2 linked regions of the Homo sapiens genome follow. The protein of the gene in region 1 interacts with the protein of each later gene in a pairwise test. Each region holds a gene or a part of one and is shown on either strand. Other genes may lie near its edges.

Evidence for each region.
Region 2: the proteins of PRPSAP2 (region 1) and ENDOV interact in a two-hybrid assay, tested with the Homo sapiens proteins (one large-scale study listed by IntAct).

What each region holds. Positions count from the first base shown.
Region 1 is NC_000017.11:18,910,024-18,913,833, forward strand, and holds part of PRPSAP2 (phosphoribosyl pyrophosphate synthase-associated protein 2), read left to right. Parts: intron 1-1,079; coding exon 1,080-1,228; intron 1,229-3,810. UniProt on the Homo sapiens protein: Seems to play a negative regulatory role in 5-phosphoribose 1-diphosphate synthesis.
Region 2 is NC_000017.11:80,413,473-80,417,382, forward strand, and holds the start of ENDOV (endonuclease V), read left to right. Parts: upstream 1-1,694; 5' UTR 1,695-1,722; coding exon 1,723-1,778; exon of another isoform or gene 1,779-2,177; coding exon 2,178-2,349; intron 2,350-3,910.

The sequences.
Region 1 (3,810 bases):
TGTGATATATTCACCCAGCAGAATATTACTCAGCAATGAAAGGGAATGAACTATTGATATGTTATTCCATGGATGAATCTCCAAAACATGTGCTGCGTAAAATAAGACAAAATGGCCAGGCGCAAGTGGCTCACACCTGTAATCCCAGCACTTTGGGAGGTCGAGGTGGGTGGATCATTTCAGGTCAGGAGTTCGAGACCAGTCTGGCTAACATGGTAAAACCCCATCTGTACTAAAAATACAAAAAAGTTAGCCAGATGTGGTGGTGCATGACTGTAGTTCTGGCTATTTGAGAGGCTGAGGCAGGAGAATCGCTTGAACCCGGGAGGCAGAGGTTGCAGTGAACTGAGAAATCCTGCCACCACACTTCAGTCTGGGCGACAGAGCAAGACTCCATCTCAAAAAAAAATCAGACAAAAAAAGGCAACTTTATGATTTCACTTACGTGAAATTCTAGATAGGTGAAACTATAGTGACAGAAAGCAGATCAGCTGTTGCCTGGGGCAACACTTAGTGAAAAATCACTAAGGGGCATAAGGAGATGCTTGTGGTGATGACGTTCCTTATCTTGATTGTGCTAATGCTTATATGGGCACATACAGCCTTCAGAGCTCATGAAATTATATACTTTAGATATGCACAGTTTCTCATATCTCAGTTTTACCTCCCTAAAACTATTAAGAAATTTGTGCTTAATACTTTGGTGAGCATTTTATGCCCTTTGCCCCATGTAGTTGGTTCTCACTGGTAGGTAGGCAGGCAGGTAGAATTAGCAGCTTTAGGTGAGACAGAGCTGAGCGGAGGTTCCTTCACTCAGTCAGGCTCTCCCGGCCAGTGGCTTGCAGACCAGGCCAGGCTGCTGCCCTTCTTTGGTGCTGCTGCAGAGGGAAGTGTTTGGCATGTGGGGTCTCTACAGTTAGTCCTGGTTTCTAAGAGTCTAAGGCTGTTTTATTCTCTCTTTTCTTTAGTCCTTTGGGAGACAACATTCTACTTATGTTCTCTTAATGTTTTGTCCCCTAGGCATTAGCAGAACCAAGGGCTGCATGAGTTTTGAGCTTGTGTCTGGTGTTTTCCCTCAGGGCACAGTCTTTTGCTGAGCGCCTGCGCCTGGGAATTGCAGTGATTCATGGAGAGGCGCAGGATGCCGAGTCGGACTTGGTGGATGGACGGCATTCCCCACCCATGGTCAGAAGTGTGGCTGCCATCCACCCCAGCCTGGAGATCCCCAGTAAGTGTGCTGCTGCCTCTTTCCCACTTTCCTCTGATTTTAAGGCTGACTACACTGTTGTCTGTGTGGTTTTTTTCCTCATTCTTCGTTTTTTTTTAGTTGGCAAAAACTCATTAACACCTTTCTTGGCCAGATAGTAGCGAATGCATTTCTGATTACCTTGTAAATTGTAAGGCCGTTTAGAAGCAGTCTGTCCTTCTTTGCAAGACCTGTGAAAATGTTTGGACTATTGAGACAGTTGCAATGCTTCAGGGAAGTCCATTCATTCATTCAGCAGTATATACTAGAGTGTAGTTTAACATAAGCAAAAAGCTTTTTATATACAAAGTTATTGACTGTGATGTTGTTTTTAATGCAAAATATTAGAAAGGTTTAAATGGTTTACCAGAGTGTAGGGCTTGGTAAATTATACTGTGTCAGTACAGCTAATTATGCAGCCCTTTGAAATAATCAAGACTATCTGGAAACGAGAAAAATATATGGAATATATATGAACAAGGCAGAATATAAGATTGTATACCTATTTGTCTTAGTTCAGGCTGCTGTGATGAAATACCTTAGACTGGGTAATATAAACAACAAATTTATTGCTCACAGTTCTAGAGGCTGTGAAGGTCAAGATAAAGGCGCCAGCACTGACCCCGTGATGGGCCGGGCACGGTGGCTCACGCCTGTAATCCCAACACTTTGGGAGGCCGAGGCGGGTGAATCACCTGAGGTCAGGAGTTCGAGACCAGCCTGATCCACATGGAGAAACCCCCTCTCTACTAAAAATACAAAATTAGCCAAGTGTGGTGGCGTATGCCTGTAATCCCAGCTCCTTGGGAGGCTGAGGCAGGAGAATCGCTTGAACCCGGGAGACAGAGGTTGTGGTGAGCCGAGATCGCGCCATTGCACTCCAGCCTGGGCAACAAGAGTGAAACTCCTTCTCAGAAAAAAAAAAAGATAAAGGCGCCAGCAGATTTGGTGTCTGTCGAGGGCCTGTTCCTCGTAGATGGTACCTTCTTGCTGCATCCTCATGTGGTGGAGAAAGGTGGAAGACTCCCTCAAGCCTCTCTGACAAGGGCACTGACCCCCTTCGTAGAGCAGAGTCCTAACAAACTAGTCACCTAAAAGCCCTACCTCTTAATACCACCACAGTGGGTTCCAGCATGAATTTGGAAGGACACAAAAATTCAGACCATAGCATTTTGCCCCGGCCCCTCAAAATTCATGTTCATCTTACGTGCAAAATACATTCATTCTATCCTAATAGCCCCCAAAATGTTAACTCCGGGTAAGTCTTAACTTAATTTCAGCATCACCTCAAAAGTCTGAAGTCCAAAGTCCCATCTAAATATCATCTAAATCAAATATGGGTAAGACTCCAGCTCTGGGATTCACTCTGACGCACGTTTCTCTCCGGCTGTGAGCCTGTGAAATCAAACAGGTTGTATGCTTCCAAAATGCAATGGTGGGACAGACATTGGATAGACATTCCCATTCCAAAAAGGAGAAGTGAGGCCCAGTGTGGTGGTTCACGCTTGTAGTCCCAGCGTTTTGGGTAGCCAAGGTGGGAGGGTTGCTTGAGGCCAGGAGTTCGAGACCAAAAGGGAGAAGTAGGAAGAAAGAAAGGAGTGACAGGTCCTGACCAAGTCTAAAACCCAACCAGACAAACAACATTAAATCTTAAGGCTTAAGTTGACTCAAAGCCCCGCCTTCCACAAAAACTGGGGCAGGGGTTGGTCTTGCAAAGCTCTGGATGGCCCCACTCCCACAGCTTTGCTGGGAGCAGCCCATGCAGCAGCTCTCAGTCACTGGATTCTCATGCCTGCATCTCTCAGGCTGGAGTTGCACTCTAGTGGTTCTACCAGTCTTGGGTCTTGGGGTGGTCTTGCCCCACAACTCCACTGGGCATTGCCCTAGTGGGGTCTCTCTGGTGGCCCTGCCCTTGTGACAGTTCTCTGCTTGGGCCCTGGCACTCTTTGGGGCATCCTTTGAAGTCTGGGTAGAGGTAGATGTGCCCCCACAGCTCATTCACTCTGTGCACTGTGGAGATGGCCCTGCACGGACACCACTGTGGTTTGTTGCCTGTGCCTTCCAGAGGGGTGGCCCGAGCTATAGTTGGACCTGCTTGAGCTATAGCTGGAGTGGGTAAGGAGTATTCTGGAATGTGGGAAGTGGAGCCTTGAAATCGTTCTGCCCCCAAGACCCTGGCATTCTAGGCTTATGATGAGATGGGCAGTCACAAAGATCTCAGAAATGCCTTTGGGGTCATTGAGTCACTGTCTTGATGAATAGCGTCTGGTTCTTTTTTTTTTTTTTTTTTTTTTTTTGAGACAAGGTCTCACTCTGTCACCCAGGCTGGAGTGCAGTTGTGCGATCATGGCTCATTGCAGTCTCACCTCCTGGGCCCAAGCAGTCCTCCCACTTCAGCCTCATGAGTAGATGGAACTACAAGCACTTGCCACCGCACCTGGCTAATTTTTGTATTTTTTGTAGAGACAAAGTTTTACCATGTTGCCCAGGCTGGTCTTGAACTCCTGAGCTCAAGTGATCCACCCGCCTTAACCTCCCAAAGTGCTTACAGGTGTGAGCCACCA
Region 2 (3,910 bases), about 62 Mb from region 1:
AACTCGGTGTCTGAGGGGTTTTGTCTGCGGCTTGTCCTGCTACACTCTGGTGGGAAAGACACCGCAGCAGGGGAGCAGGGTGCGCAGGGTGCAGTGGGTGACGCTCATTCGCTGAAAACTGACCCTGCTTTCAAAGCCTTGTCAGTTCCCAAAGCTGTATGAAGCCTTTCCTGAGCCTCAACCTCTAGAGTCTAATTTCATCCTCTGTATTTTCCCCTTTGTTAGTCCAAACTGCGTCATTTTGTAAGCCCCTTTCCATTTTGTAGACCTTGGTCAAAGTGAAACATTCCACGGGGGTTCGAGCCATGAGAAACAGCCTGCCTCTTAACATATTCTGCTGGGACAAAGCGCCAGGAACACCACATTCTGCCGGAACCACCTCATCCTGGGAACACGTTAACATCTTCCCGGACAGCAAGCCATACTGCCTAGATCCCTCCTGCCCAGGCCTATGAGTACCCCAGCCTGTAATCGCTGGTGGGCTCTGGCATTAAGCTGGCCCCCGACAGGTGTTTGCAATACACCTGTGTTGCTGTAGAGCCGCCCGCGCGCCGGCAATCTCACTGTGCGTCATTCTTTAACCTTCACCTTCCCTTCAAAACCTAACACCCTTGACGTTTATATTCAGGCTATTATATATACATACACACATACACCCTTCTGAATCCTCCCAGGAGAATATAAAACCATGGGTTAAACTGCTACACTTCAGCTTCAGTGGCTGCCTTTCAGTGCTTCAAATACACCAACCTCTTTCCCACCCCGGGACCTGCACGAGAAAGCTGCTCCACTCACCCGCCGTGCTCTTTCACTCACCCTTCAGGTGTCTTCAATATCGCCTCTCAGGCCTTTCCCAACCACCGGTTTAAAGTCGGCTCCCCACAAATAAATACATATTCTCCCTCACAGTACTTCGCACAACACCTGGCACAGCGAGAGCACTGAACCAACACTCATTCAATGAGGAACACGAGGTAAGAACCAAGACCCCCCAAGGTCGCCGTACTTTGTCTGGTAGGAGAAGCTTTCTGCCCAGCAAGGTCCGACCCAGATGAAACCCCGTCCAAGTCTGCAGCACCCCCGTGAGTCCAGCCCGCTAAACTGTGAAGAATTTAAATACACGACACCTGCCCTCAAAAGCTTGAGGGCACCCCTGAGCTGCCATCGAGGTGGGGGCGTCAACGACAGGCGCTCAGTAAGTGCTCCTGAGGCAACTGCCGGGCTGTCCTGGACCTGGTGAATCCTTTCGGGGTTCAGCAAAGGCGGACGCTGACCGGGCCAAGGAGTGGGACCTGCAGTGCTGGACCACCCTTTTCCAAGCGCAGAAGTGCCGTGCCCGCCGGCTCTCAACAGGGCAAGAGGCCCCTCTCGCCGTGCAGAGCGCAGCGCTTGCGGCGGGGACAGCAGAGGCGGGACGGGCGTCACGGAGTTCCCGGGTCCTCGCGCGGTCACTTACCTGGCCTCAGCTATCCGCTGAAAAAGGGGCGGACGGCCTCCCGGGATCCGAGCCGATATCGCGCGCGGCGCCGCGGGGCAACCTGAAGCCGTGTGCGTGCGTGTGCGTTCACGCAGGGGCTCACCCAGCGGCCACGGGCTTCTGAAGACCCGGGTGGGAAGTGCGGCCCGGGAAAGCGCAAGCGTCTCCATGGCAACGAGGGCGGACGGCGTCAGAGCGAGTCGCTTCCGGAAGTGACGTGCGGAAGGGGTGCCCGGGACGAAGCCATGGCCCTGGAGGCGGCGGGAGGGCCGCCGGAGGAAACGCTGTCACTGTGGAAACGGTAATGCTGTCAGGCGACGCGCAGGAGGCGGGGGCCGAGGCCGGGCGGCCCTTCGCGGACCCTCCGAGCTCATAGTCTTCAGGCTGTGGAATCGGAGCTGCCACCGCCCGAGACTCCAAAGCAAAGCCCAGTTTCCGGCGCGGAAGCGGAGGGATCTCAGGAATTGTAGTCCGCGGGGTGGGCGCGGTTCTCGCTTCCGGCCAGTTTGTCTGGCCTGCGCTTGCGCGGGTCTCCGCCGCCTGGGCTCCTAGGGACTGTGGCCTCGGCGGTATGTCCCTTGCTTTCCCTTGAAGCGGGAGAAGACCCGGCAGAGGCGCTCTGTCCGCTGCAGCCGCGCGGGTGGAGGAGGCAGAGTCTGAGGTGTGACCCCGACCAAGTTTGACGCTTCTGTCCTCCTAGGGAGCAAGCTCGGCTGAAGGCCCACGTCGTAGACCGGGACACCGAGGCGTGGCAGCGAGACCCCGCCTTCTCGGGTCTGCAGAGGGTCGGGGGCGTTGACGTGTCCTTCGTGAAAGGGGACAGTGTCCGCGCTTGTGCTTCCCTGGTGGTGCTCAGCTTCCCTGAGCTCGAGGTAACCTGGGAGGACGCCGAGCTCGAGGCGGGCCCCTCGGTGGGCTCGGGCGTGCGGTCTCCGGGACAGGGAGCAGTGCAAGCGTAGAACCCGGCTTCTCGTTTTGTAGGATGTCATTAATAGTCTGGGGAGTTGGCCGGGCGCGGTGGCTCACGCCTGCAATCCCAGCACTTTGGGAGGCTGAGGCGGGGGAATCACCTGAGGTCGGGAGTTCGAGACCAGCCTGACCAACATGGAGAAACCCGGTCTCTACTAAAAATACAAAATTAGACGGGTGTGGTGGCATATACCTGTAATCCCAGCTACTCGGAAGGCTGAGGCGGGAGAATCGCTTGAACCCGGGAGGCGGAGGTTGCGGTGAGCCAACATCACGCCATTGCACTCCAGCCTCGGCAACAAGAGCGAAACTCCATCTCAAAAAAAAAAAAAAAAAAAAAAAGTCTGGGGAGTCTTGGAAGGGAAAAAAAGGCAAAAATTAAGGGAATTCTGTGACTATTAAGAATCAGCTCATGAGCTTTATCTTCAAGTCTGATTGTTATCTTGGGTTCTTCATCTCAGTGACCTGTCCACCACGCTCCCAGTTGCCCAAGCTGGAGATCTGCATCCTCCTGGGCCCCTCCGTTCCTCTCGCGTCCAGTTGCACACTAGCTCGCTTTTATTCTGCCTCTTAAATGTCGCTGGAATCTGTCCCCTTGTCTGTTTCCCCTCTGCTCCTTCCCTGGCTGTGCCACCATCACTCCTGTGGGTTCCTGAGCAGCATTTTCATGGGTGCCCTGGCTCAAATGTTCCTCCTCAGTGGTTTCTTTTCCATACTGCCAGCAGACCAATTTTCCTAAAAAGCAAGTATTTTCCTCAAAAGCAACAAGTCCCCTCCCTCCCTCCCTCCCTCCCTTCCTTCCTTCCTTCCTTCCTCCCTTCCTTCCTCTCTCTGTCTCTCTTTCCTTCCTTTCCCCTTCCCCCACTCTGTGCCCAGGCTGAAGTGCAGTGGCATAATCTTGGCTCACTGTCAAGATCTGATCTCAACCTCCTGGACTCAAGTGATCCTCCCACCTTAGCCTGAGTAGCTAGGACCACAGGTGTGAGCCACTACACCCGGCTTATTTTTTTATTTTTTGTAGAGACAGGATCTCACTATGTTGCCCAGGGTGGTCTCCAGCTCCTGGGCTCAAGGGATCCTCCTACCTTGGCCTCCCCAAGTGCTGAGATTACAGGTGGGAACCACCACACCCAGCCCACAAGTCCTCTTAGAACATTGAAGTGCCCTTCTCATGACCTCATGGTGAATAAAGTTCACTCTGGTTGGCATGGCTTCAAGGCCCGTCATGACCTGTCCCCTGCGTAATTTAATATGACGCTGGAGGCTCAGCCCTCACCACTATTCTCAGTTCTTCCCACCTCCTACAGCCCACTGTGAGTCCCTCACGTGTTTGCTACGCTGTATTTGGCGGCCTGACCTTTGCAGTAATGTTTCTTCTGGAAGGGTTTCCATCTGGCTAACTACTACTCATCTCTTTGGGCTCAGTTTAGACATGACGTCCTCCACTAAGCTCCCTCTCATCCC